Regions from separate parts of the Homo sapiens genome. Here region 1 is linked to region 2. Evidence: fine-mapped expression QTL. Tissue or cell type: whole blood. Region 2 holds a variant in brackets; the other region holds the start of a gene. All regions are shown on one strand. Distances are between the middles of the regions.

Region 1 (16,816 bases), 67 kb before region 2:
AATTTTCTACACAAATTCTTATGCCAGAAACTAGAACAATGAAAGGAACTAAACAATCTGAGTTCTAGTCTCTGCTCTACCATGCTTATGCTATGACTTCTGCCATTGCTAAGCCTCGAATTGTTTATCCATATACTAAGATTGGATTGCTGTGTTTCCTTCCACTCAAGTGACTGACTTTAGCCCAGAGAGAAAACATAACAGCGTAAACACTTAAAGAATAAGAGGTTCCAACAATCCACAACCTGCTTTACCTGCCTCTTCAAAGGATCCATCTTAGGTGTGCAATACTCGAAGTCTAGAAGGAGAAAGGTCTACTTAAATGCAATGAGTTATTCTTTTACCTAGCTTAGCTAAATTTTATTCAAGCAAAGTGTACTTTTGTGAGAAGGGTCTGCATACTTATAAAAGATCCCTAATTCTAAAGTACGTTCCTTTCTACATTCACCAGAACATTTTCTAGGCTCTCAGTAAATGTGCTAACACCTTCCTGGTGAGTGAATTACAGAGGAAGTAGAAAGGAAACACAAGAACAAAATATTATTTCTAATATGCAATTTTCCCAAGTATATTTATCCTAAAATATGTATCTAATATATTTATCTGGGCTTTTACATATTATAGAGAATATTTTCCGCAATAAAAATATTCTGCTGAAAATATTCTCTTACAAATGTAGCAAGAATACTAACTTTCTGCTTGATTAGCAATTCTTGGAAATAACTACTTTATCATGCAGCTTAGCTGTACAGATTAAACTGCACGGCCACAAACTCTGTTTTGAAACAGAACCAAGCAGTGAAGCCTTTATTGTAAGTACTTGCCCAGTGTTTTACTGCATTTAACACCCACGCAAACAATTCAGAATTGTGCTTTTTCCTTTTACTAGAAAAAGGAAGACAGGTTTTTTGGATATAATGAACTAATATTCTATCCAGAAAGTAAAGAAAGACTCAACGCTGTGTCAGTTCATAATTCTTCCTGTGAGTCTGTGTGAACTTTCACGTGTTAATCTCTCTAACTCAATTTTCTCATGTGTAAAGGAAGATGATAATATCTGACTCATAGAGAATAAAAATATATAAAGTTCTTTATAAGAAAACATGAATGCTAATATATACATCCTTATAAACCAAATAAGACAGGTATAAAATGCCCTGACATGGAAGTTATTACTCTAAATGACAGCTAATATGTTGTGATAAGTCCTCAATATTCCTATTAGAGTAAGGTTGTCTAAACTTAGGGTTGTCACCCAAGGGAGGCTGAAGTGTCATTTCAGTCATCAGCATTACATTGTGAGATTGCTCTAGTTAGCAAATCTAATTCTATTCAAAGGAAATTAAAATTTTCACTAGCATGTGCATTCTAACTTAAACACTGAAATTAGTGAATAGAATTCTTAGCTAAAATTAATAATATTTTGACAAAGTGTTCTGCTGAAAGCTACCAAGTTGGATTGAGATACAATTCTGTGAACAGAGGTAATAAAGACTATATCATTTTACTAGATTTCATGGCTTAATTAATCAATATATGGAATTAATATTGGAGAACTCTAATTATTACAGGCTTTTGAAGTAGAAGCAGTAATTTTCCAAATATGGTCTAAAGTCATCCGAAGGGTGCCCAAACTAATCTAACAATACAAAGTACTTGCTATGATGATTCTTACTGGCAAATCACACCCAATTCCATGAATGTTCATTTTTATGTACAGTAAGTGCATTCACCAATAATCTACCAACATTTAATATTCACTAAAGATCCAACTACCAGATGACACTTGGCAAAACTACAAAACTCCTACTGTGCATGGCATATATAAACTCAAAGTTATTACTAAAATTATTATTTTTATGGCACCAAAGCTGAAGACATTGATACAGTAATAGAATATAAAAATAGTATGAAATGTTATTTGGAGCACCCACCCCTCTCTTTCAACTGTCTACCCCTGCTCTGAGTACCTCTGTTCTCCCAGTGGAGGCTATAAAAAACTTTAAAAAGGGGATCAGATTTTATCCTGCAATATCTGCCAAATAACATTTTTGGTAATTAAACAGTTACCACATGACACCATACTTAAGTAATGTTTCAAAACTCTTATATACCCATTTTATATAAGAGTCAGTGAAGTAGTTCCTTTCACATAATTTCCACGAAATCATGGTTAAAAAGTATTATTAGGGAGCCCTCAGAAATACTACAATAATGACATTGTCTCAATTTGTGTTTAAAAAGACCATTGTTTTAAAAGCAAAACACCTTGGAAAGTAATTCGTTTAGAATTTCATTTTCAAAATGGTAGAATAAAATTGTTTTAAAAACGTAATTGTTTAACTAGGCTAATAATATTTTTCTCAATGCCAAAGACTGTTAATCTTCCAAAGTATTCCATCTCCCTAAAAATCAACAGCATTGATTTTAGAGAATCTTATTTAATTTTTTTAAAGAAAATTAAATAAAAATTACAAGAAATACTTTTAAATTGTGCACATTAAGGTATCAGTATTTCAATTTTTTAAAGAAATAACTTTTAAATAAAAGCAATTTTTTATTTAAATATTTGAGTAAAAGCAGTGCCTAGAAATCAAATCAGTTTTGGTTTACAGCCAATATCTGTTTTTCTAAAAATGATAGTTTTATGACAACTGTGTACTACTTCTGGCCTCCAAGTAAGAGAGATTAAATGTTTTAAAAGAGATCATTTCCTGTAGTATTGATTCCTCGGCATCCCACCCTTTCAGGAACTCCCCCTCCCTTACGTCTTGGGGTTCTGCTACAGTTATTAATCATATTATGCTATTTATACCCAGCTGCAAGGGTAGACATGTCCCCACGCCTGACCAATCATGGCACTTCATTGTCCTCTCCTCTCTCTACAATAATTGGTCCAAGAGATGGGCACAGGGCCAAAGTCCCTGCATGAGATTTGTTATTAGACTCCAAAAAGATGAGAAGCTTTAAGGACCCTGTATGACTTCGGGGTTCAGAGCTACCTTCACCGCTACACTGACAGTCTAGCTGAGAAAAAATCCAACCCAGAAGAAAAGAGAACCAAATAATAATTCTAATGACCAACACTTGAGAACAGAAGTTAGCTGTTACTGATCTATGCCTGGATTTTAATGTATGTAAGTCAATAAATTTCTTCTTAGCCTACATTAATCTCAACAGCGTTTCTGTCACTTGCTACAGAATTCTTACAAATACAGAAACTGATATGTAAATTAAGATTTTTTTCTTTCCTGCTGAGATCTAAGCTATATATCACAAGATACTTGCTGCAAACTAGATAACCATATCCAAAGAGTAATATATCTCTGGAACTACTCCATTAAAGTGAATTTTTAAAAGTTATTTTATTGGAGGAAAAAGCAAAGCCAATTTAGCTTAATTCTATTTAAGTTCAGAAAATGAAGCATTAATAAATACTTGTTTTTTTCCTACCTTGTAGGATATTTTCCTTTCATAAAACTACTTCTGTTAAATGCCATTATGTATAGTAAAATCCCATTTTTCATAGTCATGTGTAATTCCCAATCAGAACAACGAGATACAGGCTTGCCTCTCACAAACTCCCCTGAAGCCAGAAAATAATAATTACGTGTTTCAAATTATGTGCAAAAAAACCAGCAAAAGCAAAGAGGCTAAAATGCCAGAAAGTTTTAATTAAGTAGATCGGTTACCGTTCACATTGTATACCCAAGACAATAAAAAGGGAAGCCTCCAAATAGAAAAGATCTTAATTATTAATAAATTTGAAACAAAATTTTTTCCAATTACCACTGCATGATATTTTTTAAAACCAAACCCTAAACTCCAAACAAATTATGGCAAAAAAGTTTAACCCTTCATAACCCATACAGAGTCTCTAAAACAATATCTCTCAGTATGTGTTAATAAAACAAGTACCTAATCACCTATAAGGACAGCGTGTCCTTTCTCAGGTATTTAGATATGTCATAAGTCAAATTATGGTCCTCAAAATGTAATCTATGTTCCCCTGGCCATGTTGGGATGACTGAAATGGGTGGGGGCTGCAGGTAAGTGGGTTGCTCCTGGAAACCACTGCAATGCAGCTGAGTGGCTGCATCAGGATAAATTGCTAGGGTTCAGGGAAGAATGGAGATATAATGATGCCACCCTTCTCACTGGAAGCCAGTCGGCTGTGGCTGTAACAAAAGGGAAGGCGGGATTAAGATGAAAATATATTTTTCAATTCCCTTTTTCCTAGGCTAGCAAATTGTGTTTTCCCATAAAACTGGCTAGACTTCCAAAACAACAAAAATAGGGCTATTAACCATAAAGAACAGAACTAATGGTACATTAAGGGTTAAATAAAAATATTCATAGTATAACATTATGAGTGGAATGAGGCTGAAGGCAGAAATAGCATTAAGCACCTTAGAGCATTATTTCGAGGAGATAACACATTTAAAAAAAACTTACAGGAGACTATTCATAATGGAACTACCTATACATTTAAACAATTAATATGATCTTCCCTCTATTTTCCAATTATTCTATAATGTGGATTTTGTGCCCTTGTACAAAATAATTTCCAATTATTCTATAATGTGGATTTTGTGCCCTTGTACACAAACACACACAAAATTATTGAGATGGACCACACTGTAAACCTTTCTGTATGGAACGTTTTTGCCCTGTGTTTTTCTCCTCCTCTGCTTCTTACCTACTACTGGAAAGATCCTAATTCCACTCAACCAAAATCTGTCATCTTTCAAAACCCAAACAAGTTCAAAATTATTCACAATTCATTCCTCAACCACTCAAGTCAGAAAACAAGGGCAGATGGCGTGGATCCTACCAAGATATTAAAAAGAAAAAAAGAAAAGAAATCATTCTTTCACTTCATGTACACATTTAATTTCCATAAATTCACTGTACATACCTAGATGAGGATAATTTCTTAGAATTAAAAGTTTTTTTGTAAAACATATCTTTTTAATGCAAGCAAATTACTTCTTCTGGTATTCGACCAAAAAACTGCAATTGGTTCCAACATGGGTGGAAAAGTGGCATTTGGACTCATCCTACAAACAGTACAATATAGTATTTTATGCACAATTTAAGGGCTTTTTGAAAAGACAGTTTTGCTTATATTTGATTTCCCTCTTTTTGTGATGACTTGAGAACCCAAATCCTTTCTAAAATGCAGCTCCACTACTTTTTCGAATAGCACACTATGCAGCCAGTTAGTCTCATTTTCACCAAAATTCATACTAAGACCTACCTAAAGAGTTTTAAACACTGGCAGAAAAGTGAAAAAGGCAAAACCCTTACTACAGGTATTCCTTACCAATGAGTCATTAAGCTCCCACTAAACTGCCAGCTTCTTGAAGACACACAATTTCTGACTCATGTTTATATCGCCAGTGCTAGCTCCATGCTGGCACTTGGTGGGTGCACCACTAAGTATTTGCTGAGGGAATGAATGCGTGCCAGTAATAGGACTTCTTATTTTTTCTGTATTAAATAAAATATGCATCTTTTCTTGGAAAACATTCTGAATAATAGTTGTTCTTCAAAAACAAAATATTAGCAAGATATTTTGTTAGCAAAATTAGCTAGAAGAGCAATGAATGGATTTGCCTCTTTCCCTACAAACATGTCTCATAACACCAGCTTCTAAGTTTCTGAAACTCTTACTTTAGACAATAGTTTTAAATTCAGGGCATTCACTCTATCTACCAAAATGTAGTATTTCAAGAAAATTATTGCTCAAAATTTCAGAAGACAAAAAATAATTTATTAAAGGCGAAACGGTTCTAGTCTTCAATACCAAAACACTTATCTTTTGTCAAATCACACACACACACACACACACACACACACACAACCCTGACATTCACAGATTTTGAAATTGGTAAATAATACTGAAGTAATCCATAAAAACAAGATTCTCTTTCAACATACTCCCAAAACACTAAGTCCCCCCAAAAATTACAAAGCACTTAGGGGTTACATAGTAAAGACTCTGTATGAAACTATCACTTGAGAAGATTAGGCACTGACTTCATAAGTCAGACACTTGAATGAATTTAGAAGATTTGTTTTGTCGCCAGTTTACATAAATTAGCAGAAAAAAAATCACAAAAATTTGTCTCTCAAAACAAAAGGTTTTATAAAGTATGTGCCAGGATCTCAGAGGAAAAATAATGTATACGTCCCAGGAACACAGAGTTATGTTACATGAAAATCAGTTTTAGCAATAAACTGAATAAAATTTAAAATCATCTAAAAATCAAATGGCCAAATGTTAAGTATTTGTTTGTACCAGTAAGATAGCAAGAAATTAAAGAATTATTAAAATGCCTCAACCTAGGAAAATAAAGTTTTACAAACTAAATTATAAAAGTCTGGGGGTGAGGGCAGGATCAATAAAGTACCCAAAATGATATACTAGAAAATGATATACAAGAAAAGTTAACAAAAGTATGTGTGTGTGTATATACATATACATATATGCATATAATATATATATACACACACGTATATACATATATACATACTGAGATATTTGGATATAGTACTCTTAGAGAATGATGGAGAGAAAATATTTTTTAAGTACAAAGATGTTAATGATATAATAAAAGTCATCAAATATCATGCAAGCAAATCAGCTTGCAATTGCTAAGGTGTAAGCCCATTACTCATATGAATTGAAGGTGTCAATGAACAGAATCCAAAACCTGAACCCCTGAGTTATTAAGAGCTTTAGGGAAAAAAGAAAAAAAAACTACCAAAATTTGAAATAGGAAATTTTCAACTTCAAGGTTTATCAAAATGTAATGCTACTTTCCCTAGCAAAGGGGCTTGGCTTGCTTCTTTTTCTATTGTTTCTAAAATAATCTCTAGGTCTCTAGATTTTCTTGTTTTAAAAAAGGTACGAAGAAATGTATTGTAAGCCTGGGAGGCTAACAATTAACTCTAAATTCTCTTACCTTTCCCATCCTCATATAATACAACCACCTAAACAAAACTCATCAAAAATCCTAAATATCCCACTAAAAAAAAAAAAAAAAAAAAAAAAAAAAACTAACAAAAAGATTCAAGAGATAAGAAAGGCACAGCATTATTTTTATTTGAATAACATAAATATTTCCTATTTTAAAGCATCCAGTAGTGTTTCTTCACCAACAGGAAGTGTATTTCTAGGAATTAGCCCATTTTAACAAAACTCCCTTACAAATTGGATGTCCCAAAGAGTCAGCAGTGAAGACTTTTACCTACCTTTAACATTACCCAGGAACTGTTTCAACTTGGTTTTTATTTAAACAAACTATAACATTGTTTCCTATGATTTCCATCCCTGGATACACTACTTGCTTAGGGTAGTTGAATGTAATGTGTGCATATGGCAGTAGACAATGATTTCATGTATTTATTGTACCGATACTTAATCTCTGGAATAAAATACACATAATTTACTGAAACTTACTGAAAGCAAACTGCTGAAATATGAGCTTAAAGGTGTATGAAGAAGCATAAAACTCTGCACAATTAGAGTCTGGGGAATTTCAGAACAAAATTCACTACTTGTATATTAATCAGAATAGAAATGGTTTAAGAATATATACTCTGTAGTAAAATCAAAGAAACTAAACCTAGTCATAGTAGTATATCACAAAACAATTTCACCAGAGGTCCAAAGTTCAACTTTACTACTGGGAAAAGACAAAGTTCAAACTCAAATGACAACTTTTCTCTTTGCAGAAAAATAAACAACAGGGTCATAATTAAGAAACAAGTAACTAATCGAGCCAAGCAATAGGTGAAACCAAAGATTCTTCTATAAGCGGGCAAAGTACTGACTACTAAGTACTACACTAAAACAATAAGAAACTACCTAATTGATTCAGGAAAAGCTTCAGATTAGAAACCATATTTTAAAGAGTAACTTTCAATTCTCTATTAAAGATTATAACAACAAAAAAAGGGAAAAAAAATCAAAGCTAAAGACAGTAGCTGCCAGAAAGATGTTAAGTCACCTGGCTGATAGTACTGGCTTTGGGAGGGCGACCCTTAGCACCTAAGTGAAAAGAAGGCTAGGAAGAATCAGTGCTACAAAAGCCATGTTCTACAACCCAGCTCATCCTTCTGCCATGGACTTTGTCAGAAGACAATATGAGAACATTTCCGATTAGTATTACATCTTACAAAAATGGTTAAATTTTACTCTTTCACTGTGCTAGTCTCTAAATGTCATGTTATGAATATGGTTTAATAAAAAGCAACTAGTCAAGACAAGAGAGTGCTAAGTACACTTTACAATACCTTATTAAATTGAAAAATCAATTTCTGTCACAAAGTTTAGATAAAAGCAAAAAATAAAACAATGTTTATGGCAAGTTTCTTTTTAAATTCCCTTACTCTATTTTCATCCTTTCCAAAATGAATCACAATAAAGAATCTTTGTCTCTTCTGAAAATAATATTTGTTTTTAATCAAACTCAAAAGTTCTACAGATAACCTCTTCAAATTCTTAATTTCTAGTATTTAAAGTCTGTTTAACCTGCAAAAATCTTGCTATTTTATAACAAATGTTGCTTTTAAGCAAAGCCATTTAAGAAAGCCATTTAATATAATACCTAACATGAGGCTATTAAGAAGCTAAGAATACTATTTTTAAAAGAGATTAAAAATTTTAAATTACAACCTGCTTAGAAACAATATTAATCTCAAATAACACAGACATAATGGTATCTTGAGAAATTACTGACACAAAGTGTCTCTTCAAAAAACAAGTGTAGTATTCAGAACTTTATTACTAATGACTACAAAATGTTCTGTGGCCATTAATACGTTATTCCCTTTATTTTGGCTAAATCTTTAAAATAGAACAGTGTCTGTGGCTGTCAAGAGGGCAAAACTGTATTACTCTAATAATGTCAACTACATACGGGGGCATAGGATGTTTATTCAACACAGTTAATATTACTAATGCTCTAAATCTTGAATTATTGTTAAATATAATATAGAGGTTGAGAAAAATGTATAACAGGTAGATTAGACTAATGTTATGAAATAGCCATCTCTTCAGTCTTCTAAAAAAGATCACAATAATTTAGAATACACCAGCTTCCATGTCAATATATCAACTTTAAAATTTCTAAAAATAAGTTATATTCTCATCTATGCCCTAACGAATCAAAACAAAACACAAAGAAATGATGCAGATGTTCTCACTATTCACTAACTCATGGGATTTGAACTAAGATTTGGCAGCTAGACTAGTAAATGCTGTCTATATAGCCTTTTGCATATTACAGACAGTGCCTGACTAGCTGAATTACAGCCCCAAAAGTCTTTCCTCTGCCTTTCACACATGGCTGTAAAAGTTAGAGTTAAGAAAAAAATTTACAAATTCTCAAAACTATACAGAAAAAGCTGTTTAAAGTCTGCCAAAGTTTTAAAAAATTAACAACAATAAAAAGAAAACCTCACCACATAAACCCATACACTTAAAATGAATACGATGGAATACGCTATAGAAAGAAAATCTTAATTATGACCTTAGGAGCATGTGAGTCTGTGTGTATACATATCCACAATACACAGACATATGTAAACTGCACCACAAACCATCAAGCCCCATTAAGCTCAAGGACTATTAAAGATATATTAATATTTCCAAAGCGAGCTGCTGAGAAAGAAATGAGAAGGAGATAACATATTAAATTTTTATCCAGAATTTTCTAGCATTTTGCCATCAAGGGATGGACTGCTACCTAGCCCAGGTAACAATTAACCAGCCCATTATATTTTGATGCACCGTATACTCAGCAGAGCACATTAAGGAAAAACAGTTTGGTTTCTAATAATGTTACAATCACAATTCTCTCTCCCACAAACATCTAAGACGACAGAACCACATTCTATCTATGCTGAAACAAAACCAACAATGCTGTCTATAACAAATTCATAAGAACTACTACATACTATCAGATCTCACTGTATGCTGTCTCTGATCAATGCTTTGAAACTGACGAGTATGCCATAAACATAACGTGCTTTGCAGCAATTTTTACTAGCATAAAAGATACCAGGGCAACAGAGGCTCCTTTAACCTACCACTTCAACAAAATTCTGTAAAATCAAAAGCGTTACAGAAGCTTTCACTCCGCTAGGCACCTAGGTCTTCCTGCAAAACCCAGACTCTATTCAACAGCTCCCTGCAAGAACACACCAGTCTGCCACATATCACATATTGTACCGTCATCGGTACTCAGACACCTGAACCACCTGGACTGACAGAGTTAGGCTGTCAGCTCTGAGATGTCTGCTAGAGTGCAAGAAACACTGAAGCAGCTAAGCCCTTCCAGGTACACCAGGTGGTAACCTTGGCACCAAGTGCCTCTATAGTAAAGTCCCTTTTTCCCTGTTAGAAGATGCGTAAGATCGTTCCAAAGAAAATGTTACAATCCTAAGGGCCTTTTTGCACAACACAGGAAAAGGCTGGCCTTCTCTAGTCAAAAACTCTTGTCTGCGGGGGGAGATGGAGCTACAAATGTAGGAAACCCAGCTTCTAGTCGCAATTCTGTGACAGCTAGCACAGCTAGCAGAGCAACCGCGCCAAGCCAGAGCTCAGTTTTCCCTTCGGCAAAATGGGACTCACCAACGCCACCCCTCCCCCTCGTCAAGGAGTCTGGCACACCCTAGAGGTCTAAGATTACCCGGGACAATACGCGGTGGGGAGGTGCCGCCGCTCCCAGGACGCCCACCCTGAAGCCCCTCTCCCCAACACCCCGAGACAGATACGCAGGGCCGGCGTACCTGGTTTCACAGTCTTGAGACGGATGGGCTCGCGGAAGTGGCGGATGACAGCCAGGGTGTCCCGGTTGGTGAGCCCGCTGACAGGCGTCCCGTTTACCTCCAGCAGCACATCGCCTGGGCTGGGCGCCTTGCCCGAGACGACGCAGCAGGTGCCCCCGCCGGGCTCCTCGCGGAGCCGCCCCAGGTAGGGGAACTCGCCACGCTCCGCGCCACCGCGGATCTCCGCGCCGAAGTCGCCCGGGGGCCCGGCCCAGGACACGGCGCACTCCTGCACCTTGCTGAGCCAGTGCTTCTTCTTCTTCAGCGTCTTCGACATCCCGAACCCCGCTGCACCATGGGGGAGACCCCGCGCGGGCGGCCGGGGCGCCGCTCCGGCCCCGTCTCAGCCCGGGGGCCCTGGGCGGCCCGCGCAGCCCGGTAAGGGGGGCCTCGCCGCTCCGGCCCCCACCCCGCGACCACAGCCCGCTGGGGGCCCGGCCGTTCCCAGACGCGAGACGCCCCTTGGACGCCCCTCCCGGCTGCGCTCCCCGGGGCTGACCGGACTCCGCGAGGGCCACCGCGGGTTAGGCTGAAGAAAGGAAAAGGGAATTGTCCCCAGGAGGTTCCAGAAGGGGCTTCGGGCGGGGTCACTGCCGCCGGCTGGTCCCTGGGCTCAGCGCCCGAGCGGCGGGAAAGGCTGAGGCGGGGGGGCGGGGAGGTGAAGGGGGAAGAGCCGGGAACGGGAAAAATCCGTGGGGGGCGCGCAGAAGCGCGCGTAGACCCGTCGCGGGATCGATCGTGGCCGCTGCGGAGCTGTAGCGCGGAGACCAACGCCTGCCCAAGCTGCCAGGAAACTGCCGCTTTCAAACCAGCCGCAACCTCCTCCTCCTCCCTTTTCCCTTCCCCCGGCCCTCGCCCATCCCTCATCCAGAGCCCCGCCCCCTCCCGCCGCGCGGCGCCCGGCGCGCTGCCGTCACAGGCTGGGCGCTTGGGAACGAGCCCCGGCCCTGGACTCTCGCGCCAGGGATTGGCCCCCGGCGGGCAGGAGGCGGACCGCCAACGAGAATGGGGACCACTGGTTGGTCGGTGCGAGTGGAGGAGGCGGGCACTAGAATGACTGAAGTTTAGAGAGGGTGGAAAAAAGAAGTTTGGAGAGTGAGGGAGGGCGCAGAGGAGGGGCAGGGGAGTGGAAGGGGCTGTAGGTCGCAGGGCCGGGAGAGGCCCTCTGCGCGGCGGCTGGAGCCGAGGAAAACTCGAATCCGAGAGGGACCGAGCTCCCCGAAGTGGGGGCGTGGCCGGCGAGTTAGGCGGAGACGCGGGCGGAGCCTCTGAGCCTGTGCGGGGCGCAGAGAGGGGCCGGTGTGCTTAGATTGGAAGACAACGTGCGGAGTCCTGAGCCGGCCGAGGTTCCGGGGCCTTTAGGGTGGCCTGTTACAGCCGATAGTTTGCATTGAGTGGATATTGCTTGTTCATTCGTTCATTCAACAGATGTTACTGAACGCCCATTGAGGCAGGGCTTCGGAGTCCGGTTGATGAAAGATATTATAAAATAGAGTCCGGCACTGCTGTATGACCTAAGACAAATTAGACAACCTCTCTGAGCCGCAGCGTCCTCAGTGAAAAGTGAAGATTACAGAAGATGTACAAAATAACTGCATAGTGCCTGACAGTGGGTGGTTGCCTCTTAAAGTTTGGTAGCTGCTGCTGCTGCTGCTGATGACGATGACGATTTTGTGTTAGATATTGTGCTAGGTACTGGGATTCAAGGGTGAAGAAAACAGAAGCCCCGCTATTGAGGAGGTTACAGTCTAGTGGGAGAGACTGAGAAGTAAGCAGACTGCCTGAGGTGAGGGAGTGGGGTGGAGGTAGAAGGTGGATTATTAAGAACTAACCTGGTAGCCAGCAGATCTGGTTGGAGTCCTGACATGCTACTTACTTGCTGTTTGACCTTGGCCAAATCTCAGTTAAAGGAGGTGAAGGGAGAACGAACATTAAATAAAAGATATCGTAGATCCCTTCCAGCTCTAATTTTTCAGAAATTTCACTTGAGCTTTCTCTCTTCCCCGGCTTGACTTACACTCTTCCCTGTCTTTGGAATGCCCTTCATCTCATCTCTTTTAAAACTCCTATCCGTCCTCATCCCAAATGCCGGCTCTTCCAGGTAGCTTTCTCTGATTTCTTGCCCTCAAGTGGAAAGTGTTTTCTCTGAGCTATGATCTTTGTTTCACTTTTGCAGCATGACATTTATTTGTGTAGTCTCCTGTCTCCCTTTAATAGTAGGTGAAAGCCCTTATAAAACTCCACACCTCAGATAGACTGGACCAAGCTTCAATAGCTGCAGTGATTTCGTTGACACCATTGTATCAGTCAGGGTCCTGGCAGGAAACAAATGGCATTTTGCAAAGATGTGGGCAGGGTGTGGGAAACCACAAGAGAAGCTGGAACCCTGAGGCTACAGCTCCTAGATCTGTCCAATCGGGAAAGAACAGTTACCGAAAAATCCAGACACACAGGGCCACCTGACAGGAGTCTGTGACCTTCAGTCAACGGATGCAGTCAGCCTAAGTAAACACCCAGCAAAGGACCTGGGGGATTTATATCTAACTCACCACCCTCCTCCAGTCTCCTGCTGGTGCTTGTCAATGGCCAAGTCCAACCAGACGCCAGAGGGCAAGGGAGGCTTTTGATATAGTTCATATCAGTCAGTTTCAGAAAAGGAAACAGTGCATCTGAGGGGAAAATATTCAGCACAGACACCATGTGGATGGCTCAGATTTAACCATATCTGAGACAAAGCTTGGAGTATTTTTTTTCTAAACTACTACCTATACTAATGGATTCCTGGATAAAATCTCCATAACCTACACATCATCTGTTTTTGCAGGAACTCTGGGAAAACATCTTTCTGTGTCTAGATTGCATCTGTTAGAATGCCTTTGGCCTCAAGGAACAGAATATTTGGCAGTAGCTTAAAGCATGAGGTCATTTACTATATCTTCAATATAAATTTCAAGTGCAGATAGTTTCAGGGTTAGTTGAGCAGTACAATCATGTCATCAAGGACCCAAGCTCTTTTTTGTGTTTGCTCTCTGCCATCACATGCATGTGAGCTTTTGTCTCCAGGTTTGTCACCTCTTAATTGCAATGTGGCTGCCATAGCTCCAGACATCACATCCACAGAGGTCACTGCACAGAGCAGGAACGGAAGAAAAGGAAGTGCTGTCCCCCATTTTTATGAAGGAGAAAAATATTTCCCAGACTTTAGAATCTTCCTTATTGTCCAGAAAATGGTCATATGCCACATCAGACCAGTCACTGGCAAAAAGAGATAGGATTGGCCACAGTTCATTAAATTGATCACAAGTCACCCCTAAACAAAATGAGTGTTCTGACTGAGAGCAGAAAAGGGGAAATAGTTGCTAAGTAGGCATCCAACAGTGTTTGCCACATGCCTCAACCATGAATAAGTTGTATTCATTCTTGGGCAGAAAACTGCAGTGGTTCAGAGCTTGAGCAAATCAGACTGCAAATCCCAGCTTTTCTACTTACTGCAAATCCCAGCTTTTCTACTGCTAGCTCTGTGATCTTGAGCAAGCTATTTAACCTTGCCTATCCTCAATTTCCTCATCCACAAAATGGGTTTGATGACAGTGTTTACCTGAGTTGTTGTGAGAACTGTATGAAGCTATTTGAGTCAAGTAATTTGAGTCAAGCTATTTGATAACATAGGATGCAGCATAGAGCAAACAGTAAATTTTTATTTTAGTTTGTGCTAAATTGTACTATCTTTGACAAAGCTAAAAACATTGTATTAAATTCACCCATCTTAGTAAGCTTTGGTTCAGTTTTTAAAATATTCTAGAAATAAGCTACCCATGCTATTGAATTAATTCTGGTAGGATATTATTTTGGCAATTATTACATAAAGGGGTCATATTTTAAGCTTCTATCTCTAAAATGACACCTAATTAAATAATCGTATTGTATTCATGTTTATCACGACTTTCCAAAAATAATGGTTGGTTTAATAGTTGTGATTTCCATTGGGGAATATTAATAAACCAAACAACATGGAACAAAAATAATAAAAATAAATGAGGCAATTGAATTTGGTGATCTCCAAGGTTTCTTTGGGCTATCCCTATCTAATCTATCTAATCTATAGAGCTAGAGATAGCTATGTGTGTTAGGCCATTTTTGTGTCATTATAAAGAAATACCTGAGGCTGGGTAATTTATAAAGAAAAGAGGTTTAGTTGACTCACAGTTCTGCAGGCTGTACAAGCATGGCGCTGGTATCTGCTTGGCTTCCTGGTGAGGCCTCAGGTAGGATTCAGTCATGGTGAAAGGTGCAGCAGTGGCAGGCACATCACATGGTGAAAGTGGGAACAAGAGAGGGTGGAGGTGCCACACACTTTTAAACAACCAGGTCAGGTGTGAACTCACTCATCGCCAAGAAGACGGCACTAAGCCATTCATGAGGGATCCGTCCTGTCCCCATGATCAAAACACCTCCCACCAGGCCCCACCTCTGACACTGGGGATCACATTTCAACATGAGATTTGGAGGGGACAAATATCCAAAACATATCAATATGTTTCACTATGGAAACTTTACAAGTTCAGTCCCAAGATGGCTGCAGAGGCTCCAAGTATCACATCCACACACAATAATGGCTAAAGACTGAAAGGAGGGAAAAGGATATTTCCTTTCCTCATTTCCTTTTTGTAGATCAAGGAAGCCTTTCCCCGAAAGGCCTCCAGCAAGACTTCTCCTCTAGCTTCTTGGCCACAGTTTCCCAAATTTCCTTTACTAAATGAATCTTTGCCAAGGGTAATGAAATATCTTATTACTTATCCAGTATCACCTCTGGTACTCTGAAGGGGGCCCTGCCTCTTGGCTGCACAACATAGGGACAAAACTTGGCGGGGAGGGGTCTCTTAGTAAATACAGGGAGGGGAGATTAGCTTTTGGGTAAGCAACTCACAGTGTCTGCCACGTGTACACTGCATTGATTTGCTTCTAATAATTTTTTTTTAAGCAAGGTGGAAAGTTTGTTTTGTTTCATAATATTGTGCCTAATGTTTCTAATGACAGTTAAGTAAACCCACTCCTGACCGTGCACGGAGGCTTAGGCCTGTAATCCCAGCACTTTTGGAGGCCAAGGCAGGCGGATCACTTGAGGTCAGGAGTTCAAGACCAGCCTGGCCAACATGGTGAAACCCTGTCTCTATTAAAAATACAAAAATTAGCCCGGCATGGTGGCAGGCACCTGTAATCCCAGCTACTCAGGAGGCTGAGGTGGGAGAATCGCTTGAACCAGGGAAGCAGAGGTTGCAGTGAGCCAAGATTGCACCATTGCACTCCAGCCTGGGCATTGCAGTGAGGCTCCATCTCAAAAAACCCACTCCTTTAAGTAGAAAACTTCAGAGTGGAAGTATAAATTTCCCATTTTTGGAAGTGACCCATACTTAGTTACTTCTTTGTACAATCAGGGATGCCTCATATGGTGGTGCAATTCAGAGTCTATGTGAGTAGTGCCCTGGAGTTGTTCATGGCTCTGTGCCAAAGCAATGGAGGGGCAAATGTTAGATTTCGTTTATATTTATATTCTCACTAGTTTCATGGAAACCTGAATTTCTAGTAAGAATAAATCAAACCATCATTATGTAGATGAAGTCATTCTCAACTATTGAGGTGGCAGAGGGTGGAGAAGAGGTGGAGTGGACAGATGGAACAAATATGCGCCTTTTATACAGAATATAAGAAAATGTGTCCTGTTTTTTTCCCGCAGATAATTATAATAAAATCATCTTAAGTTGTTAAAATTCTGATTCACAAAATCTTTCACTGGGTTAGAAAATATTTATATTTACACATATAATGGAAATAATATATGTAATGTAGTCCAATATTAAGAGCTTAGCCAAATTCAGTATTAATGTTCTACTGTACTTTATATTTTGTTAGTGTTTTTATTTGCCTAGGTTATGGGCCAATTTGTATGCCAATGCTAAAGTATGCTCAATTACAA
Region 2 (16,816 bases):
TTAACATTGAGGCAAGACTCTCCACCAGCCGAATGACTATGATTTGCTGAAGGCTGAATCGATCGTTAGCATTTTTTACCAATGAAGTATTTTAAAATTAAGATACGTACTTTTTTTATACATAATGCTATTGTACACTTAACAGACAACAGTATAACATAAACATAGCTTTTATATGCACTGGGAAACCAAAAAATTTGTGTGACTCGCTTTCTTGTGGTACCTGCTTCATTGTAGCAATCTTGAATTGAAACACAGTATCTCCGAGGTATGCCTGTACTTACATTTTTCAATCTGACATATAAGTTATATTTATAACTTTCAATAATTGCATAATCTACCAATTGGATGTACTGTAATTACTTACTCATTCTCATGTTGCTGAATATTTAGGTTGCTTCTAGTTTTTTGATATTACAAATGTGTTATGATGAGCATCTTTTGAATTGCTAAGAAAAAGCTGGCTTATATTTATATAATACCATTTCAAAAATCTATGTCTCTGTATTTTTCCACTGTTTGGGTTTCTTAATCAAGTAAATTATGATGAATACTCTTGGTACATCAGGAGATAGGAAGCAGTTCCATAAGTTTTTTTCTGTAATTTACCGTTAGCATTCAAAACTGATTTCTTTTATAGTCATTAATTTGTAATGACAACATAATAATGATTTTCAAAGCCCACAGACTACTAGAAAACTTTCTACTGAGCTTGTAATTAAAATGTCAGAATTCGTTCCCATCCTTGAAAACAATTTTTTTTTTTTTTTGCTTTTGATGATTGATTCAAAACTGTGTTCTATAGATCTTAATTTTCACATCTTCTACTTCGGCAGCAAAATGAATACTCAAGGTGAAAAACAAAATAATAGCTTAGAATTTAAAACCTGTTCTTATTAGCTTGATATAGACAACAGGGTCAGATGTTGCTGCTTTCAACTTTTTTTTGCACACTTAAAAATAAAAATATGAATCGTTATGCAACTAAGAGTTTAAACTTTTCTATTGGACTATTGATAAGTTACAGTTTGTGAGTTTTAAAAACTTTTACTTCTGTGTATTTTAAAGAGATTGTGTTCAGTTTATTCTCAAGTCAGACTTATACATCTTGGTTCTGACCCAGATTTTATATTCTCATATATAAGGGTGAAAAAGACTGCCAAAGCACAGTGTTAAGTTCAGGTATTCACCAGTCTAACCTGTTACCCTCCTTGGGGTCTTACTTTCTTACATGACTGCAGTCAACAAGTTAACTGGAGCTCTAGTTCTTGTGATTCATTTGAAAGTCTATTCACTATTATTTCATGTCCAAAGGGCTGTAACAACAAATATTAGAAAGTGGGTAATATACAGGCCTCTTTGTTTTGATTATTTAATCCAGAAGAGGTAGATGTAGAAATACATGACATCATCCCTCACTCACTTCCTTTAATCCTTTTTGATGATGGTACTCAATAGTTGTCAATACCTAGATAGTTCACAAGGAAAAGCTATGTAGAATTAGAATGAACCATTAATATGAAGAATGTGACAACCTACTTCTGCCCAATATCATACATTATATAAGGAGAGAACATTCAATTTGATAAGTATTTGAGTGCCTTATCTGTATTGGGTAAGACGTGTATCAAGGAAAGCTGTGCCCTTGGTTTTTACATTTTTCCTCGTCTAGCGAAGGGCTACATTCTTCCAAAAACACATCCTGTGGCTGAAAATGTTTTTGTTAGCAGTTATGCAACTTTATGAAAAAGCATGGTCTTCTCCAAATTGGATATACTATAAATTGAAGACATTAGTCATAGCTGCTGGATTTTTCCCCCCATTTGAAACACATGCTTTAATACTTTCTTTTTTAGGTCGAATTTTAAGTGGTGTATTGAAATGTTGGAGAAAAAAAAATACTATATGTAAAAAAACAGGTTGGATAGATAATATTTTAAAAAGCAATCTGCATTAGGAAGAGAAAGAGCCGTGTCATTTTCTCACATTTCAACTCCCAGGCATACACATATAATTTAACAAAATGCAATATGATGCAGTACTCATTCACACACTTAGCATGTGATTATTGAACACTTGTCATGGGTGTCACACTGCAATCATCTCTGTGGGGGATACGAAGAAAAGAAGGCCCTGCCCTTGCTCCCAAGCAGCTCACAGCACCTTTGGAGAAACAAGACAAGCATGAAAAATTTAATGACAGTGTAGGGTACTGAATCTATAACCAGACAATAGTGCTTTGAGAAAACATGAGAGAATGTGTTCTGTTGGGAGGGCTATAAAGAAGCAGGTAGGCTTGAGCTGGGTCTTGGATGGTGAGAAAGATTTAGCTAGATTAGGGAACAATAGGGAGGAGGGCCCTCTAGACCAAGGGGGAATGTTTAAGAAAAGGAAGGATTGTGTAACCATGTCCAGCGGGTGGTAAGCAGACAGCCTGGCTGACCTAGAGGGTCTATGTCTTAGAAAATTATATTGGAGCTAGAATTGGTGGGAGAGACAGGGAAGGCAACTGACTCTTATTGCTACCCGCTGTACGCCAGGCCCTTTACTTACCTACGGAATACTTCCAACAACCCTGCTATTTCCCAGGTCTACAGGTGAGAAAACTGAGTCTCAGACAGATTATGTGATTTGTCTAAAGTTGTAAGGCTAGTTGTTGACAGCACCAGGATGCAAACCCATGTCTGTCAGCACATCCTTCCTCTTTCTACCGTACCAGCTCCTTTAAGTGCCTTGCAGAGGGACTTGAACTGGTTCTTTATGAAATAGAGAATAGCTGAAAATACTTTGATCCAAAAAGACTTTAAGGAAATTATCTTCATGGTGTGTCAGCGTGCAGTATGGATTAGAAGGACCTAAGAGTGGTGAGCATTTTGGACATATGTTTTTTTCCACTCTGTCGCCCAGGCTGGAGTGCAGTGGTGCAATCTTGGCTCACTGCAGCCTCTGCCTCCTGGGCTCAAGCAATTCTCCTGCCTCAGCTTCCCTACTAGCTGGGATTACAGGCTTACGCTGCCACACCCAGCTAATATTTTGTGTTTTCAGTAGAGATGGGGTTTCACCATATTGCCAGGCTGGTCTCGAGCTCCTGACCTCAAGTGATCTGCCAGTCTTGGCCTCCCAAAGTGCTGGGATTACAGGCGTGAGTCACTGCACCTGGCCTGGAAATAATTTTAAAAAGGGCCTTTACAACTCGGTATTCCCTTGGAATCCAGGACATTGTCTTGCACATAGTTGCAGCTCAGTAAATATTTCTTTAGCTAGAAAAGACCACAGAACTAGTATTCAGAAGATGTGTGTTCTAGTCCTGACTTGACACCGATGAGTTTTGTGGGCATGGGCAAATGGGGTAAGAGCTCTGTGATCTTGAGCACATTCCCCAACCTCTCTAAGGCTTAGTTTCCTTATCAGGGAATATAAGGCTCATAGGCTTATTACGGGGTTTACACGGAGATGATAGATACAATATGATTGAACAATGCCTGGCATAGTAAACCTTAGTTATTATTATTAAGGGGGAAATCCTTTAATTATTTTAATTAATTCATGAAGCCTAATGGAAATAACAGTTTCCCATATTAAGCCTACATTTAGTAAATGGGTTTTGGTAGATAAATATTTCTAAAGCATGAGAGTTGAAGGGAAGGGAAGGGAATTAAAAGGATTTTAGGTGATGGGAGTGATGAGCACACTGGCTTGAATGGTCCCCAGGAAATGTCTACCAGCACAAATGCTATGTGAGAATGGGACTGAAGGAAGACATAACCAACCTGGTGACTAGTCCTATTAGTGCCTTAATCTCTAGAGGCCCAAGATCCTAAACAAAGAAAAAATAGAGGTATAGAGTTGACCCTCTACATGTCTGGGTTCTGCATCTGTGTATTCAACCAAATACAGATCAAAATACTTAAAAAATTTCAAAATAACAATAAATTAAAAAATTTTAAAAAGATACTATATGACAACCATTTACATAGCATGCCTATGGTATTAAGTATTATAAGTAATCTATTTATTTATTTATTTATTTTGAGACAAGGTCTCACTCTGTTGCCTAGGCTGGAGTGTAATGATACGATTATGGCTCACTGCAGCCTCAACCTTCCTGACTCAGGTGATCTTCCGACTTCAGCCTACCGAGTAGCTGGGACTATAGGCATGCATCAGCATGCTTGGCTAATTTTTGTATTTTTTATAGATTCAGGGTCTCACCATGTTGCCCAGGCTGGTCTTGAACTCCTGGGCTCAAGCAATCCTCCCACCTTGGCCTTCCAAAGCCAAGTGCCGGGATTACAGGTGTAAGCCACCCTGCCTGGCCTCAGTAATCTAGAGATTATTTGAAGTGTATGTGAAGATGTATGTATGTTATATGCGAATATCATGCCATTTTATATCAGGGACTTGAGCATCCACATATTTTGATAACTATGGGGGTCCTGGAACCAATCCCCCAAATACCAAGGGACAACTGTACTAAATGCCCTAACTTTTTTGAAAGACCAGAAAACTCATGTTGGTGATGGTGGAAAAGTCCCATTGGAGTTCAAGGTGCTTGGGTTTTATATGTTATGTAATTTAAAGTAAGCTTTCAGTTTTATAAAATATAGTCCTAGTTAAATCCTGTTCTGAAAAATTTTCAGGTTTTGTCTGAAATTATACTGCCTAAACTTTATGCCAATACATTTTCCAGGGGAGGATGAATAATGGATTTGTTGTCTGATTATCATATTTACAAGCATCATCTGGTCTTAGTTGCCAAAGATTGGTATTTTGAAACCACAAGACGAGAGATT[C/A]ATTTCTTTACGGTAGAAAGACAACAAAAATCCCCATTAGGTCTACAGCACTTTCCCACTGTTCTTTCTTTGTTGTACATTAGAACAGCTACAATGCACTGCACATAAAAAAGGAATCTGTGATGGTTAAATATTCATGGCCATTTGCTATTCAGTGTGTGTTTTTATTATTTTTAGCAAATAACAGCACGATCTAATGATTCACTTAACCCAGTTTATGAACTTTCCGTATCTAATTTTTATCTATCACTGAAAGATTTCTGTTCTTTCTTAAAAAGAATGCGTTAGTCTTGCTTTTATGTGGACTCCCAGCCTAGAAAAGCCCATTTGATGGTCCCACATGCTTAGTTTGTAGGATCTTAGGTCTCAGAGTTGATAAAGTACTGTTGATGAAGACCAAAGAGAGTATGGAGGCAGAATCTTTCCTCCCTGGGAGCATAGAACCTCCAAAATATAAACGGGGGTTAACTGGGAATAGAAAGGTAGGGGGAAATTCTGCTCATCTTCTTTTTGTTTTATTGTTATAAAAAGGGTGGCATTTCCCAGAGATTATTGCCTTAGCAAAGCAAAGAGAAAATGAAGCAGAGAAAGAAGAGGAAAGGTTTCCTAAGATGTATTTGTTTACCTTTCAGCCTAACAAGGCTGGCTTTCTAGGTGTGTAACCTGTGTGGGTCTTAGAAGCAACTCAGGAGGCCCTCATGCTTGAATTAATAATGTTCTACTGTCACCATCTAAAAGTTGTTCATATTTTTTGAGCCAGGGGCCTCACATTTTCATTCTGTGCTAGGCCCACAAATTACATAGCTGGTCTCATGACTTGGTGAAATATAAGAAGAAGAAGATGTTTTTGTTTAAAGCAAAAGGGTTATATCAAGCTGACTGAAGAAAGAAGGCAATACCAGGAACCAAAAGAGGTAGAGGAAGTTGAGAACAGAGGAATAGCTTCAATGGTAATGTCCCTTTTCATGACTAACAGTGATACATATGCAACTTGTTCTCAAGGAAAAAAGAGGAATATGATTGGAAAGATAAATTACATATTTGATACCTCTTCCAATATGGCTACTTTTTATACAAATTACGCATTTCTGTTTTTCATCCTTCCTGCACCTGCCCTGCTCTGGTCTAATAGTCATTTGGACTCTGTTTATATAATTCACAATTGCTACTGATATCAAAGGTAAAGTATCCTATGTTGATACTTTAATACCAAGAGTCTTCCCATAATTTCCAGAATAATAAAAAGCTCTTCATTTATTTCTCAAGTGCCGAAATAAACAAAGGTCAACCAAACGAGAAAAGCGAAGGCTATTTATTCTGAGTTCGCAATGGAGTCAGCCGCCATCATTTGCATCTTGACAGAGATTCAAAGGCAGGTGGGAGAGAGGAGGTGGAGCAAGATAGCTGAACAGAAGCTTCCACCAATCATCCTCCCCACAGGAACACAAAATTTAACAACTACACAAAAGGCTCCTTCATAAGAACCAATAATCAGGTGAGCAATCACAGTACCTGGTTTTAACTTCATATCTCTGAAAGAGGCACTGAAGAGGAGGAAAGATAGTCTTGAATTGCCAACACCACCCCTTCCCCATCCCCCTGGCAATGGATGGCCAAATGGCATGGTGAGAGAATTATATGTTCTTGGGAGAGGGAGAATGCAGTAATTGTGGGAATTTGCACTGGAATACACTGCTGCCAACCCAGGCAGAACTCAGCTGGCACTCACAAGAGGGAGCATTTAGACCAACCCTTGCCAGAGAAGAATTGCCCATCCTGGCAGTTGGAACTTAGGTTTCAACAAGCCTCACCCACAGGCTAAAGTGCTGTGGGGTTCTAAATAAACTTGAAAGGCACCCTAGGCCACAAGGACTACAACTTCTAGGCAAGACCTAGGACTGTGCAGGGCTTAGATCCAGTGGACTCTGTGGGTGCATGACCTAATGAGACACCGGCTGGGCAGGGCTAAGAAATCGCTTACACCACCTCTCCCACAACCCCAGGCAGTGCAGCTCACAGCTTCAAAAGAGACCCCTTCCTTCTGCTTGAGGAGAGTAGAGAAAAGAGTAAAGAGGACTTAGTTTTGCAATGTGGATACCAACTCAGCCAATGTAGGACAGGGCACTGGACAGAGTCATAAGGCCACAATTCCAGGCCCTAGCTCCTGAACAACATTTCTAGATACATGCTGAGCCAGAAGGGAACCTGCTGCCTTGAAGGGGAGAACCCATTCCTGGCAGAATTCCTCAACTGCTGACTAAAAAGCTCTTGGGCCTGAATAATCAGCAGCAGTAGCCAGGTAGTGGACACCATGTGCCTTGGATGAGACTCAGAGATGTGCTGGCTTCAGGTGTGACCCAGAACATTCATAGCAGTGGTGGCTATGAGGAGAGACCCCTTCTTCCCAAGAAAAGAAGAGGGAAGAGTAAAGGAGACTTTGATGTGGGCTTAGGTACCAGCTTGGCCAAAGTGGAAAAGTGCAGCAAGCAGGCTCTTGGGGTCCCTGATTCCAGGCCTTGGCTCCTCGACAGCATCTCTGGACCTACCCTGGGCCAGAGGGGAGCCCACTTACCTGAAGAGTGAGTCCCAGGCCTGGCAGCATTTACCAAAAGCTCACTGAAGAGCCCTTGGGCCTTAAGTGAACATTAGTGGTACCCTGGCAGTACTCTCCATGAACTTATGGTGGTGGCAGACATGGGGAGAGACTCCTCTGCCTGGGAAAAGGGGAGAGAAGAGTGAGAAGGACTTTTTCTGGTGGTTTTGGTGACAGCTCAGCCACATTAGACTAGAGCATCAGGTAGACTTCTAGGGTTTCTGCCTCCAGGCCCTCGCTCCAGGACGGCATCTTTGGACCTGCCTGGGGGCCAGAGGGATTGCTGCCCTTAAGGGAGGGACACAAGCATGGCTGGCTTCACCACCTGCTGATTGTAGAGCCCCAAGGCCTTGATTGAACATAGACAGTAGCCAGGGAGTAGTTACAGCAGGCCTGGGCAGGACCCAGTGCTGTGCTGGCTTCAGGTCTGACCCAGTGCAGTCTCAGAGGTACTGGTCACAGGGATGCTGGTGTCACCCCTCCCTCAGCTCCAGGCAGCTCAACACACAGAGAGAGACTCCATTTGTTTGAGAGAAAGTAAGAAAAGAGAACAAGAGTCTTTGCCTGGTAATCCAGAGAATTCTCCCAGATCTTATCCAAGACCCCATGGGCGTACCTCTACGAGTCTGCAAGAACCAGTGTTACTGGGCTTGGAGTACTTCCTAAAGCAGATATGGCTGCAGTGATCAAAAACTTAGGTCACCAAACCCAAGTCCCTTCAAATACCTGGAAAGCCTTTCCAAGAAGGACAGGTACAAACAAGCCCAGATTATGAATAACTCCTCAAAGCCCAGGCACCAACAAATATCCATAAGCATCAAGACCATTCAAAAGAGCATGGCCTCACCAAACAAACTAAATAAGGCACCAGGGAACAACCCCAGAGAGACAGAGATATGTGACCTTTCAGACAGAGAATTTCAAATAGCTGTTTGAACAAAACTCAAAGAAATTCAAGGTAACACAGAAAAAGAATTAAGAATTCTATCAGATAAATTTAACAAAGAAATTGAAATAATTAAAAAGAATCAGGAAGAAATTCTGGAGTTGAAAAAGGCAATTGACATACTGAAAAATGTCAAGATTCTCTATCAGCTAGATTCCCCTTCTCCTGAACAGCTCCTCAGCCTCTCTAGGTTTGCCTCTCTAATCTTAGCAGCTCAGAAAGCAAGCACGAAAGGAAATAAAACAAAACAAAAACCAAACGTTGTATTTAAGGTCAAGGTTTACCGGGGTACCAGTCCTGGCTCTGCCCTATGAGCCACATGATTTCAACCAAGTATGTTGTCTGAATCTTACCTTTCTTATCTGTAAAATGTGGATAATGTGTTTCTTGCCATTTTCACGGGGTTATTACGAGGGCTAGATGTGTTATTCTATATGCAAATGCTCTGAAAACCTAACAAGCAGTATTGGTTTGTTCACTTTTGTGACCCAGCCTGGTGGGTCAGAGAAGTCTTCCTGGAGGAGCAGATGTTGGGCCTGAGGCATGGGGAAGGCAGAGAGTTAGCAAATGAAGAAGGTTCTAGATTGAAGCAATGGTATGAACAAAGCCAAGGAGTTGTAAAGTGGCAGGGTGAGCTCAGAGAACCATGAGCACCTCTGTATTCTCAGCTGAAGAGAGATGGGGAGATGCAGACAGGGCTTGGGTCAGGAGAGTCTGGTAGGTTCACCAAGAACCCTGTGGCCCTGGGGCCATAAGAGCTATGGGAAGGTTTTGGTAAATGAATAATGTGGTATAACAGTGTTGTAAAAAGACTGCTCTCATGGCAGAGTGGAGGGTGAAATGGAGGGAAACCAGAATGAAGCTGGAGGTGCGGTCAGGATAAAGGCCTTAACCAGTGCAAAAAGTGAGGATAGAGAGGAGGGGTGAGGTCAATAAATATTTAGAAGACAAAATTAGCAGCACTTGGTGATGAGTAATGAGTGTCTTTGGATAATAAAAATTGGCAAGTTTGATGATTGGTCCTTGGCAAAATGCTGTAGCCAATTTTTGGAAACAGTAAATGAACATTTCATTTAGAAATTAAAATGGTGGATTAATTTAGCCTCAGAACACATTGACTATGAACAAATCATACCAAGCATGTCTCATTTCCTCTTTACAGAATAGTTATTTTTCCAATATAAAATAATAAATGCTTATTTTAGAAAACTTGGAAATTATCGAAAGCTAGGATAAGAAAAAGTTCTGCTACCCACTAATTAACATTCCTGTCAGTATTTTTCTAAGAAGATCCTTTAACATGGTTGTGATCATTCTGTCCACTAAGTCTAACAGTGTGTGATATTTTTTTCTCTTAACATTACACCTCAAACGTATTTATTTTGTAACAAAATCTTTGTAAATATTATTTTAAATAGATAATATTGACTGTCTATGGATGTGCTTTAATTCATATTTTATGGGATATTTGTTTCTAATGTTGGGATATTTAAAATAATAATTTCATTGATATCTTTATATATAAAGTGCTTTCCATGTATGGGACAGATTTCCTTAAGATAGATTTCTTAAAAATGTTTACAGTATCAAAATATACAAATGTTTAAAACCTTTTGTTACATGTTATCAAACCTCTTTCAAAAAGGATTGCAACAATTTATAATGCCACTGGTATTGTAAGGTTATCCATTTCACAATATCTCTTCCTGCAGAAAATCATCATTAAAAACAACTAAACAAAACCAAAACACTTTGCTAACTTGATTAGTAAAAATGCCAACTCATGGCCAAGCATGTGTGACTCACACCTGTAATCCCGGCACTTTGGGAGAGCCGGACAGGAGGATTGCTGCAGCCCAGGAGTTTGAGACCAGCCTGGGCAACGACACTTTGTCTCTACAAATAATTTTGTCTCTACAAATAATTTTGTCCCTACAGATAATTTTAAAAATTAGCTGGGCATGGTGGCATAGGCCTGTAGTCCCAGCTGGCCTTAAACAGGGCAAAAAGTGAGGATAGAGAGGAGGGGTGAGGTCAATAAATATTTAGAAGACAAAATTAGCAGCACTGGGAGGCTGAGGTGGAAATATCCCCTCGACTGGGAGGTTGAGGCTGTAGTGAGCTGTGATCACACCCCTGCACTCCAGTCTGGACGACAGAGTAGGGGGATAAAAGTCAACTCATTTCATTTTCTTTGTTTTTACAAATATGAATAATACACACATACGGGAGAAAGTAAAATAGTATAGAAAGGCATAAAATGAGAAAGCAAAAATCTCCCCCCTTCCACAACCCCAAACCTACCCGCTTCCCCAAAGCAACCACTGCAAAAAACTTACTTGTGAATACCTTTCTGAAAAAATTGTTTATTAAAGTTTCTAAAATAGTACTAGGTACTATTTATATCCGAGGGTTCTAGGTCTGGAAACCTTTCCATGTCAATGCATATAGTTCTACTCTATGAATATATAAAAATTTATTTATCCAGTTCCCTATGGATTGATATTTTGTTTATTTTCAATATTTTGCTATTGCAAAGAATCCTGCAATGAACATCTTTGAATTAAGATCTCAGTGTACTTGTGCAGCATAATTCCTGGATATGAAATTATTTTCAATCTTACATTTTAAAATGTTTACAGCAATTTATGATCTCACCAACAATGTGTAAATGTTTATTCCTTCACACTCTCACAGATAAGCCTTTTTTATCAATCTGATAGATGAAAAAATGTCATCTCCAGCCAGGCACGGTGCCTCATGCCTGTAATCCCAGCACTTTGGGAGGCCGATGCAGGCAGATCACCTGAGGTCAGGAGTTCAAGACCATCCTGGCCAACATGGTGAAACCCCATCTCTACTAAAAATACAAAAATTAGCAGGGTGTGGTGGCACGTGCATGTAATCCCAGCTACCTGGAAGGCTGAGGCAGGTGAATCACTGGAATCCGGGAGGCGGAGGCTGCAGTGAGCCAAGATGACACCACTGCACTTTAGCCTGGGTGACAGAGCAAGGCTCCCTCTCAATAAAAAAAAAAAAAAAGGTCATCTCAGCGCACACTCATTCATAAATGTTTATTGAGCTCCTACTTTGTGCCAGGCCCTGCTCTAGATGCTTGGGACACACAACTGAACAAAGCAAAGATTCCTGCCCCTATGGAGCTAACATTCTAACACAATTAACAATAAGCATAATACATAATAAATCATAGTACACAAGTAAGTCAGAAGAAGATAAGCTCTGGATGCACTAGAACCTCTGCTTTTGCTGCCTCTGAAACAGAACGTCATGGCTACCTTTGTCACAGCACCACCAGAATGGATTTTGGTCAGTTGCTGCTTCTTAACCTCACTGGTTCTTGCCACGAAATTTAGGACTAGAGTATCTGATTGGTGAAGGCTAGATCATGTGACAGCACTCTTACTGTAAGGGTGGTTAGGAAAGTGAATATATGGAAATTTCAGATTCTTTGCTGAATAGAGGTCTTTGTCTCATAAGGTGGGGAGGAGATTCCTCAAACCCAAGGGGAAGTTCAGTCACTGAGCAGCTAAAAGGAATGACAAATGTCTACACACTGGTGTTTGATTCCCTTTCACAAGTGCCTGGGCAAACCTTAGGGAGTAGAGGTCCCAAAAGTCAAACTAGATCTGGTAAAGTAGGTACCCAGAGTGACCAGGGGCAGATGTAACCTGATGAGCAAATGTAGGTAGAAGCCTAAGGTCAAAACTTAAGGATCATGACCAGTTATTGGGCCTAAGGGAGTAATGCAAATATTACAGGAGTGGAAGCTACATATCCCTGGATACTAGGAAATTTAGGAAGAATATAGAGCTTGCCTTCACGTGTAGAAGTGTTGTCATATGGAAGAGTGATCATATGTATTTTTGGAAACTGCACTGGGCAAAGCCACATTTATCATGTATCCAGCAAATATGTAGTAAGTAACTGATATATACTAGTTCCTGCTCTAGGCAGTAGAAATACAACAGTGAACAAGGCACATAAATTCCTACTGATATAAAACTGGCATGAGTTGGGGGAGTAAATTATAAAAAGAATCACACATTCATATGTATAATATAATGTTAGCGTTAGATGATATGAAATAAAATAGAGCAGGGTAAAATATACAGTCGAGCATGGAGCAGGATAGATAATGCAGCTGGAGAAGGCCTCTCTGAGATGGTAGCATTTGAGCAGAGACTTGAATGAAAAGAAGGAGCAAGCCCTGCAAGCATTTGGGAGAAGAAATTCCAGACAAATAAAAACCAGCACAAACGCCCTGAGATGGGAATGCACATAGTATGTTGGAAAACACTGAGAAGCCAGTGTGGCCAGAGAGCAGTGAGTAGTAGGAAATGAGATCAGAGAAACAGTCATGAAACCAGGTATTTCAGGCCTATAATTATAGGCTGAGGTAAAGCATTTTGATTTATTGTAAATGTTATAGAAAACTATCAGAGGACCTTGAGCCAGAGAATGACATGATTTGGCTTACATTTTATAAGGACTAGTTAAGGGGCTTCTATGGAGAATTGATTGTAGGAAGGACAAGGTAGAACCAGAGAGATAAGTTAGGAGGCTACTGTCATGGTCTAGTTCAGAGGCAACGGTGGTAACAGTGGGTGAGAGTTTCAGAGAGACACGGTGTAACTTTGTATAAGGAAAACCTCCAGTTATTACAACTGTCCAAATATAGAATGGTCTGGGTGCTAGAGATGAGATTTCTATATTGGGAGGGGTTTGGTCTAGGACAGGAATCAGCAATCTATGATCCAAAGCTGGCCCACCATCTGTTTTTATAAATAAAGTTTTATTGAAATACAATTATACTCATTATTGTCTATGGCTACGTTTGCACTACAAAGCAGAGCTGAATAGTTGCAACAAAGAACATATGGCCTGCAAAGCCTAAAATATCTGTTTTCTGTCTCTTTACAAGAAGAGTTTGTTGATCCTTGATCTGGAAGACTCCTCTGGTTCTTCCTCCCTTCCAGAGTTCCTAGAATTCCATATGTAATTGTTCACTTGACATTTTTATGTTATCTTTGTTCCATGTGGGTAGTAAAGACTTCACAGATGGGAAGCTTGCTTTCTACTTCTTAAGTAGGTCTTTCTATTGCCTAATTGTGAACATTTGGCAGTTTCTTTAAACTACACTCTTAATTGGGAGGTCAAGTATAGAGGTCATTATCACTTTGTAAAGAAAAAAAATTGTTCCAAGTTTCTGAGTACATTACTATCTAATATTTTCCTATAGATAAAGAGTGTATGCCATTGGCAATACCTATGAGTTAGCTTAGCAGTTGCTTAACAAAGTCATCTTGATAATTTTAAGAATGATATATGGGGTTAAGAATCAAATGTTTGAAGCTCAAGGGAAGATCTTTTTCCTGGCAATACACGTGGACCAAGGGTAATAGAAACAAGTACAGTAACTTAGCAGCCAAAAGAGGTTGATCCAGCTCTCTGGCTTCTTCTGAAGAGGCAAACAGGTCATATGTTTGGAGAAGTGAAGGAATTGCATACCTAAATAGACTATTACATTTCTTTTAATGAATGACAGGAATGTTTGTACAAGATACAAACCAATCTTAGTTATCCAACAAAAGGCAGCAAGAGCTTCAAGTCTACCATGCAAATCCCTGGAATTTGATTTGCAAGTAATTCTTATTCTCTCACACGAGGGCATTGGAAGAACAACAGTGCTGAGCAAGAGCAGAAATTCTTCATAAGAATTCTAAGAAAGAGAGAAAAGGGGAGTTTCTTACGTAACAATAGGTGTGAGAACAGAGAAAAGGGGGGCAAGAGGGTCACTATAGGCACCACTGATACTTATGGTGAGCTAATGCCATGCTGCTAGCTTTCCAGAAAGCAGAGACTCCCTTTCCCTTTGCCTCTACTAACAACAATATCAGATGAACTTCTATTTTGAAAAATGCTATCATTAGGCATTAGGACCAATTATGAGGAATGGATTTTTAAAAATTGAAATTCATTTTCATCTCTGAATCTACACACAGACACACAGACATACACACACACAAACACACACAAGCAGCTTAGACAATTATTCAGACAATTCAGACAAAAATCTCAAAATCTGTTACTTGTTCTTTATCTCCTCTAATTATCAATACTGATCATATCAACTAGACAGGCCATTGCTCTCCTCTCTTCTCTCTATTTTGTGTTCTTTGTGTAGAAGCATAATATTAATAAATAGATTGAAATCCTAACGCAGTATTCACTGCTGGTTTCAGGGGTTGCCTGGGGTCATCATTTGGGCAATACTCCAAAATTATTAGTTCCCTCTGGATTTTTAGTGATATAGCAACCTAATCAATTTTAAATAGTTTTATAGAATATTAATATCAGTGTTGCATAAGAACCTTTACTTCTGAAGCTTAGCTTTTAAAAATTCTTCCTAGAGCACCCTTCTTCAAACATATGTAGGCTAAAAGCTATTTGATATGTGACTGATCATTTATGTATACACACCCATGTTTACCCAGTGCTTCTGAATCACTTATGACTAATTAATCTAGTTAACCATTACAGGCTGCATAGCAAGTGATACTACAAATACCACCTTGTATTTTTTTACATAACAGAGGCAGAGCACTGGCAAAGGAGTTGTAAAAAACACTTCACCAAGCAACCTGGGACAGGCTGCTGGACATCTCTGAGCTTCTGTTTTTTTCTATCTACAAAATGGAAATATGTATGTATTTCCATTTTATCTAACTATATGTTTGTACCATTAACCTTTCCCACTCCCTGCCTACATTATTCTTTCCAGCCTCTGGTAACCATCATTCTACTCTCCATCTCCAGGAGTTCAATAGTTTTAATTTCTAGCTCCCACAAATAAGTGAGAACATGCAAAGTTTGTCTTTCTGTGCCTGGTTTATTTCACTTAACATAATGATCTCCAGTTCCATCCATATTGTTGAAAATGACAGGATAAATATGTATGTATTTCCATTTTATAGATACATATATATGTATTTCAATTTTATAAATATATAAATACATATGTAATATATATATATATCCTACTAGATGAAATTATTTTAAGATCATGATTCTGAATGGACTAATTACAAATGGATAGCACAGACAGGATTATTATTATACTATTATAGAATACCTTGCTTTATATTAGACCCTAGACTTCCTTGGAACAATTCTATGTCTGGCAAAAAGCATGGTCATTATTCAGTAATGGTCTTAGTAAGAAAATATTGAGTCAATAATTATGAATACCAAGATTCAATTTTTAAAAAAATTTTTTATTTTTAACTTTTCTGCTTATATAGTAGGTATATATATTTATGGGGTACATGAGATATTTTGTTACAGGCATACAATGCATAATAATCACATCAGGGTAAATGGAATATCCATCATCTCAAGCATTTATCCCTTTTTTGTAACAATCCATTTATACTCTTTTAGTTATTCAAAAATATACAATAAATTATTGTTGAGTGTAGTTATTCTATTGTGCTATCAAATACTAGATCTTATTCATTCTATCTAACTACATTTTTGTAACCACTATCCTTCCCCCTTCCCTCACCCGACTACCCTTCCCAGCTTCTGGTAACCACCATTCTACCCTCTATCTCCATGAGTCCAGTGGTTTTTATTTTTTGCTCCCACAAATTGGTGAGAACTTGCAAAGCTTGTATTTCTGTGCCTGGCTTATTTCACTTAACATAAGACTTCCAGTTCCATCCATGTTGTTGCAAATGACAGGAAGTCATCCTTTTTTTATCACTGAATAGTACTCCATTTTGTATAAGTACCATTTTTTTTATTATACTTTAAGTTCTAGGGTACATGTGCACAACGTGCAGGTTTGTTACATAGGTATACATGTGCCATGTTGGTTTGCTGCACCCATCAACTCATCATTTACATTAGGTATTTCTCCTAACGCTATCCCTCCCCCAGCCCCCCAGCCCCCAATAGGCCCTGGTGTGTGATGTTCCCCTCCCTGTGTCCATGTGTTCTCATTGTTCAACTCCCACTTATGAGTGAGAACATGCGGTGTTTGGCTTGCTGTCCTTGTGATATTTTGTTGACAATGATGGTTTTCAGCTTCATCCATGTCCCTGCAAAGGACATGAACTCATCCTTTTTTATGGTTGCATAGTATTCCATGGTGTATATGTGCCACAATTTCTTTATCCAGTCTATTATTGATGGACATTTGGGACATTTGGGTTGGTTCCAAGTCTTTGCTATTGTGAATACTGCCGCAATAAATATATGTGTGCATGTCTCTTTATAGTAGTATGATTTATAATCCTTTGGGTATATACCCAGTAATGGGATGGCTGGGTCAAATGGTATTTCTAGTTCTAGATCCTTGAGGGACCACCACACTGTCTTCCACAATGGTTGAACTAATTTACACTCCCACCAACAGTGTAAAAGAATTCCTATTTCTCCACATCCTCTCCAGCATCTGTT

What was found.
Region 1: it holds the start of MAGI3, and the variant in region 2 is fine-mapped to the expression of MAGI3 in whole blood (INTERVAL, PIP above 0.99).

What each region holds. Positions count from the first base shown.
Region 1 is chr1:113,385,337-113,402,152 of GRCh38, reverse strand. It overlaps MAGI3 (membrane associated guanylate kinase, WW and PDZ domain containing 3), which reads right to left and starts at 11,638. Exons shown (of 21, transcript NM_001142782.2): 1 at 10,804-11,638. The coding sequence starts at 11,119. RefSeq lists enhancers at 10,593-10,642, 10,693-11,192 and silencers at 10,873-11,032, 11,093-11,222, 11,633-11,992, 12,023-12,072, 13,062-13,306.
Region 2 is chr1:113,318,514-113,335,329 of GRCh38, reverse strand. No RefSeq gene overlaps it. Among named protein-coding and RNA genes, the nearest start is that of MAGI3, 64 kb to the left of the region's middle. The variant C/A (reference allele first, on the strand shown) is at 4,794.